Linked DNA regions of Homo sapiens. The protein of the gene in region 1 purifies or fractionates together with the protein of each later gene. This does not show direct contact. Each region holds a gene or a part of one and is shown in the gene's direction. Other genes may lie near its edges.

Evidence for each region. The genes of interacting proteins can lie anywhere in the genome.
Region 2: the proteins of AASDHPPT (region 1) and ZC3HC1 fractionate together in Homo sapiens (co-fractionation; one large-scale study listed by BioGRID). This does not show direct contact.

The regions. Positions count from the first base shown.
Region 1 is NC_000011.10:106,084,162-106,087,661, forward strand, and holds part of AASDHPPT (L-aminoadipate-semialdehyde dehydrogenase-phosphopantetheinyl transferase), read left to right. Parts: intron 1-3,500. UniProt on the Homo sapiens protein: Catalyzes the post-translational modification of target proteins by phosphopantetheine.
Region 2 is NC_000007.14:130,037,875-130,041,374, reverse strand, and holds part of ZC3HC1 (zinc finger C3HC-type protein 1), read left to right. Parts: intron 1-273; coding exon 274-424; intron 425-1,827; coding exon 1,828-1,911; intron 1,912-3,500. UniProt on the Homo sapiens protein: Required for proper positioning of a substantial amount of TPR at the nuclear basket (NB) through interaction with TPR.

The DNA.
Region 1 (3,500 bases):
AAAAAAACACTTAGAGCTTGTGAAAATGTCGGAAAAGAACAATCATATAGATGGAAACACTAGAAATTGCTACAGGCTTTTTGGAAAATAATGTTAAAATTGAAAATACACATAGTCTTTGATTTAGCGATCTTGTTTATAGTACTCTATCCAAAATATTTATGAATAACAACAAAACCTGAATGCTGCTAATAGAAATTGGTTAAATAAATTAATGGTGGATGCATTCTGCAGATAATTATTAGCTGTAATAAAAGAATTAGTTAGGTCTATATGAACCTGAAGGGACTTAGAATATATATATATTTAATATTATAATAGAGACAGGGTTTCTCCATGTTGCCTAGGCTAGTATTGAACTCCTGGGCTCAAGTGATCTGCCTGCCTCAGCCTCCCAAGTGCTAGGATTACAGGCGTGAGGTGTGAGCCACTGTGCCCAGCCAATATCACATCATAGAAAAATATATATAGCAGAATCTTTTTTTTTTTTGAGACAGAGTCTGGCTCTGTCGCCCAGGCTGGAGTACATTGGTGCTTGGCTCACTGCAAGCTCTGCCTCCTGGGTTCAAGCAATTCTTTTGCCTCAGCCTCCAGTGTAGCTGGGATTCCAGGCACCCGCCACCTGGTATTTTTAGTAGAGACGGAGTTTCACCACGTTGGCCAGGCTGGTCTCGAACTTCTGACCTCAGGTGAACTGCCCGCCTTGGCCTCCCAAAGTGCTGGGATTACAGGCGTGAGCCATCACACCTGGCCGGGTTTCCATATTTAAACAATATTCCCAGCTGATAGACATATTAATGTTTGGGAAATTCTGTATTGGATGTAATTTACAGAACTAACAAAAAGAAAAATTGTAGCCCATTTACCATTTTTTATGAGTGATATTATCAGAAAGTCATTGCCTCACACTATAACAAAATTAAAGTTTTATTAACACTTTTGGTTTGTTTGTTTTTTTTTGAGACAGTCTTGCTCTGTTGCCCAGGCTGGAGTGCAGTGGCGTGATCTTGGCTTACTGCAAGCTCCGCCTCCTGGGTTCACACCATTCTCCTGCCTCAGCCTCCAGAGTAGCTGGGACTACAGGCACTTGCCACGACGCCCGGCTAATTTTTTGTATTTTTAGTAGAGATGGGGTTTCACTGTGTTAGCCAGGGTGGTCTTGATCTCCTGACCTCGTGATCTACCCGCCTCGGCCTCCCAAAGTGCTGGGATTACAGGCGTGAGCCACTGCGCCTGGCCAGTTTTATTAACACTTACTAGAACACAATGTAATTGTATATTTGAGCAAACTTCTGAAAGATGGCTTTTGAAGCTTAAAATAATAAACCACTAAGTCAACAGATATGATTTCATATTAAATCATCTTTCACAAACCAGAGAATATATTGGTGGCAAATTTGACAGACAAAGGTTAATGTTGTTAAGATATGAAATGCCCCTCTAAATATCGATGGGAAAACCACTTAAGCCTTACTTGATGAATATAGGAAGGACTTTATAAAAACAGTTGACAAAAGAAGATACACATTTAACCATGACTTTGACAACAACCTCAGAGCTAATATTTATTAAGTACTTGATAGTTCCAGGCATTTTACATGTTTATTCTTAATCTGCCCAATTCTTTGTCCCAATTTTACAGTTTGAGAAACAGCCATAGAGATGTTAAGTAAATGTTAAATAAATAACCCACAGGTTGAGTATCCCTAGTGGGAAATCCACAGTGCTCCACTGAGTTTTTCCTTTGAGTATAATTTTGATGCTCAAAAAGCTTTGAGTTTTATAGCATTTTGGATTTCAGGTTTTCAGATTAGGGATCCTCAATCTCTAGCTAAGAAGTGATGGACCAGCATTTGAACATTTGACTGCAGGGACATAGAATTAAAACTCCGAAGGGTACGCGAATGTGTGTGCTTATGTATAATTTAAATTGTATCCATGTGTATATTAGTTTCTTCAGGCTGCTTAACAAAGTACCTCAAACATGGTGTCTTAAAGTGACCGAAAGCTCTTCTGTAAGTTCTGGAAGGCTGGAAGTTAAGGTGTCAGCAGGGCCATGGTCTCTCTGAAGGTTCTAAGAAAGAATCCTTCCTTGCTTCTTCCTAGTTTCTGCTCATTCCTAGCAGTCCTTGGCTTGCAGTTGCATCACTCCAATTTTTGCCTTCACCTTCAAATGACCTTTTCTGTCTCCTCTCTGTGTGTCTGTCTCTCCTTGTAAGGAAACCAGGCATTGGATTCAGGGCTCACTTTAATTAGGTATGACCTGATCTTAACTTGATTACATCTATAAAGACTCTATTTCCAAATAAGGTCACATTCTAAGGTTCTGGGTGGACATGAATTTCAGGAGACACCCTTCAACCCAGTAGAGTCCATTCTCTGGCCCCCTGCAAAATTTATATCCATCTAACATACAAAGTAAATTCACCCCATCCCAGCATTAGCAATTCTCAGCCCATTCCAGCATTAACTCTAAATCTCATGTAAGTGTTAATATCATCAACCCAAAAAGTGGCAGATCTCATCTCAATCATCTAAATCAGCTATGTGTGAAACTGGAGTATGATCCTTCTTGGGGCAAAATTCCTCTCATCTGTGGACTTGTGAAAGCAGAAAACAAGTCTTCTAAAAATCAGTGGTAGGAGAGGCATAGGATAGACATTCCCATTCCAAAAAGAAGTTCGAAGTAAAAAGGGGTCATTGTTCTCAAACATGTTCCAAACCCAGCAGAGTAAATTCATTAGGTTTCAAAGCCTGAAAATAAAAGGCTTCATGCTCTGTCCTCTTGGTCCTCTTCTTCATTCTCTGGAGTTCTTCCTGAAAGGATAACATTCGCAGCCCAGTAGTTCTAGCTCTATCAGCCTGTTTCTTGCCTCTGTGTGTTAATACCTATATGTGTTGGTAAACAATGTAAGAGCAACTGAAGTTTAGGACTGCCTAAATGGTGAGTTTCAAACCTAGGTTGACGTTATTTCAATCTAGTGCTTTTTCTGCTGTACTCCACAAATTGAGGGCTTAAATACATCCTTTGATAGTAACATGCAAGAAGCTTTGTGCATGTAGTTTGTGAAACCTATATTGGCAGCTCAGATATTTTTGTGTTATTCTAGGTTTTTGTCTGGATAAGTTCCTGGACAAATGAGCTGATAAGCATTACGGTGTACATACTAACTCATATCTTAGAAGACTGTCACTTCTCATAGAAGCAAAATTATATATAATTCTATTATATACAGTTTAGTACTTAGAAAGTGAAACTATTACAATTTCTAATATGATTTATTATCTAAGGCTAAATTTTGGTACTTTGAAGCAAGCACGTAGATGGGCATTGCTTAACTCCCTTCCACTTCCCTCAAAAATGACCAGCCCATTTTCCTAAAGGCTGAGGTAGTTATATGTATATATTTGTGTATACATATTGGTGACCTTGTTTTGGAGAGGGATTAATGTCGTAGGCCCTGAGGTTCTGGATTTTTTTCCGTAGGCCTGAAATAGTT
Region 2 (3,500 bases), on another chromosome or scaffold:
TCTACCAAAAAATACAAAAATTAGCTGGGTGTGGTGGCGTGCACCTGTGGTCCCAGCAACTTGGGAGGCTGAGGTGGGAGAATTGCTTGAACCTGAGAGGGTGAGGTTGTAGTGAGCTTAGATCGTGCCACTGCACTCCAGCCTGGGAGACAGAGTGAGAACTTTTCTCAAAAACAAAAAAAAAACAGTATGTGTATACACACACACACACACACACACATACACACACATATATATATATATTTGCTGTGTTGTTTTTCTTAACATGGATACTCTTTGAAATGGGCAGGTAAGCCCTTTGAGCTGTCTCCACTCGTCTGTGCAAAATATGGCTGGGTCACAGTGGAATGTGATATGCTCAAGTGCTCTAGCTGTCAAGCTTTTCTCTGTGCCAGTTTACAACCAGCTTTTGACTTTGACAGATGTAAGTATAAGGTACAAATTACATTTTTCTCCACACTCAAATATATACTATCCTGGTTTTCTGGGGGGGGAAAAAAGGTCATTTTAGTTTGATCAAAAAATGCGTACTTCAATCTTTTTTTTTAATCTTTTTTTTTTTTTTTGAGATGGGGTCTTGCTTGTTGCCCAGGCTGAGCAAGATGTAATAGTGCAATTACAACTCACCACAGCCTCAACCTCCTGGGCTCAAGCGATCCTTCCTCAGCCTCCCAAGTAGCTGGGACTACAGGCGCAGTGCCACTACACCTGGCTAATTTTTGTTTTTTTTTTGTAGAGGTGGGGTTTTACCAGGTTGCTCAGGCTAGTCTTGAACTCCTGAGCTCAAGTGATCCGCCCACCTTGGCCTCCTAAAGTGCAGAGATTACAGGGGTAAGCCATAGTGCCTGGCCAGTCTTTTTTTTTTTTTTTTTTTTTTGAGACGGAGTCTCGCTCTGTCCCCCAGGCTGGATGGAGTGCAGTGGTGCGATCTTGGCTCACTGTAAGCTCCGCCTCCTGGGTTCACACCATTCTCCTGCCTCAGCCTCCCAAGTAGCTGGGACTACAGGTGCCTGCTACCACGCCTGGCTAATTTTTTGTATTTTTAGTAGAGACGGGGTTTCACCGTGTTAGCCAGGATGGTCTTGATCTCCTGACCTTGTGATCCACCCGCCTCAGCCTCCCAAAGTGCTGGGATTACAGGCGTGAGCCACCGTGCCCGGCCTTTTTTTTTTTTTTTTTTTTTTTTTTTTTTAAACTAAGCTAGCTACTGCAGCATGGACTTGACTTAATGTAATCTAGGTAACAGCAGCATGTTTACTTTATTATTCCAAAATGTATACTTCTAGACGAAGAGTGACAAAGGACTTTTATGAAGTCTCACACTTTGGAATGCTCTGCTTTATAAGATACATGGGGGCCGGGCGCAGTGGCTCACGTGTGTAATCCCAGCATTTTGGGAGGCTGAAGTGGGTGGATCACATGAGGTTGGGAGTTTGAGACCAGCCTGACTAACATGGTGAAACCCCATTTCTACTAAAAATACAAAACACTACTCAGGTGGCTGAGGCAGGAGCATCGCTTGGGCCTGGGAGATGGAGGTTGCAATGAGCCGAGATTGCACCACTACACTCAAGCCTGGGCGACAGAGCAAGACTCTGTCTCAAAAAAATAAAAAATAAAAATAAGATACATGGTATCTCCTTTGTTGATCTTAGGATCTCAATTTAAAACCTGTTTTGTGAAAAATATTAAGATTATGTACTTGATAATATTTTCACATTTTAAAATTCTCTTATTTTTAGTTAAATCTCTGCTCTTAGAGGCCATTCATTGGATTTTGAATCTATATAGTGTTTTTTAAGGTGTTGCTGTTTATGTGGATTTCAGATAAGCAACGATGTGCTGAGCTGAAGAAAGCCTTGTGTACTGCCCATGAGAAGTTCTGTTTCTGGCCAGACAGCCCATCCCCAGGTACTTATTTTTGAGAATTCCTGTTCACCATTTTTCCTTCATCATTGCATTTCTAATATTGTCTGTTTGTGAAAACCTAGTCTTTGAACTTTCTTTTTCTCCTTTTCTTTTTTTTTTTTGAGATGGAGTTTCACTCTTGTTGCCCAGGCTGGAGTACAGTGGCGCGATCTTGGCTCACTGCAACCTTCGCCTCCCGCGTTCAAGCAATTCTCCTGCCTCAGCCTCCAGAGTTGCTAGGATTACAGGCGTGCGCCACCACGCCCAGCTAATTTTGTATTTTTAGTAGAGATGGGGTTTCACCATGTTGGTCAATCTGGTCTCGAACTCTTGACCTCAGATGATCCGCCCGTCTCGGCCTCCCAAAGTGCTGGGATTGGGATTACAGGGGTGATCCACTGTGCCCGGCCTCTTTTTCTCCTTTTCTATTTGCATTATTTCCAGAAAAACTTATATTCACTTGTGTTATTACTTACCTTCATGAAGTGCATTTGACATGCTTAAGGCTTTAGACATATATATGCATTATCCCATTTAATCCTTACAGGGGCCCTGGGAGGTAGATACTACCAACCCAGTTCTTTTGGTTTTTTTTTTTTTTTTTTTTGAGACAGAGCCTCGCTCTTTCACCCAGGCTGCAGTGAGGTGGCACGATCTCAACTCACTGCAGCCTCCACCTCCGAGGTTCAAGCGATTCTCCTGCCTCAGCCTCCCGAGTAGCTGGGATTACAGGTACACGCTGCCACACCCTGCTAATTTTTAAAATTTTTTGTAGAGATGGGGTTTCACCATGTTGGCTAGGCTGGTCTCAAACTCCTGACCTCAAGTGATCTGCCTGCCTTGGCCTCCCAAACTGCTGGGATTACAGGCATCAGCCACTGTGCCCGGCCATAACCCAGTTCATTTAGGTGAGGAAACTAAGAATCAGAGGTCTTAAAACCAACTAGAGAGAAGCTATAACTAAGTTTAATCTGATTTCAAACCCTCCGCTTTTCCCACCACACCAAGCAATGCCATGTTCTACCTAGGTTTCCTGTAGAGGGAGTACTAACAGCAATAATGGTGGAAGTTAAACAGGGTTCATTTGCTGAAGAAGACTCACAGGACCCCAAGTGAGAGTGATCACAAATCTGCAGTTTATTGCAGTAAAACAGTACACTATCACAGCAGCACTGAAGTAAGGGTGTCATTACAGCCACAGGCTGCCTGTCTGGGAAGGCCAGGTCCAACCTCCTATTTCCTGTCTATATAAGGGCCATGAGAGGACATACTCTCCCTTGAATCAGGAACTACTGATGTGTGCACAGAACACTTTGGAATAAGAGAGCCCAAAGTGTAATCTCAACTGGGTTTTTAAAAATATTTTGTTCTTTGGCCAGGCACAGTTGCTCCCAACCATAATCCTAACACTGGGAGGCCAAGACAGGAGGATTGCTTGAGTTTAGGAGTTTGAGACCAGCCTGAGCAATAAATATAGTAAGACCTCATCTCTATGAAAAATAAAAAATATTTTGTTGATCACATAGGCATATTCCTGCTGAGTAAACAGCTTCAACAGCAGAGCCCTCTGGTGGGGAATCTAAGAGCAAGTA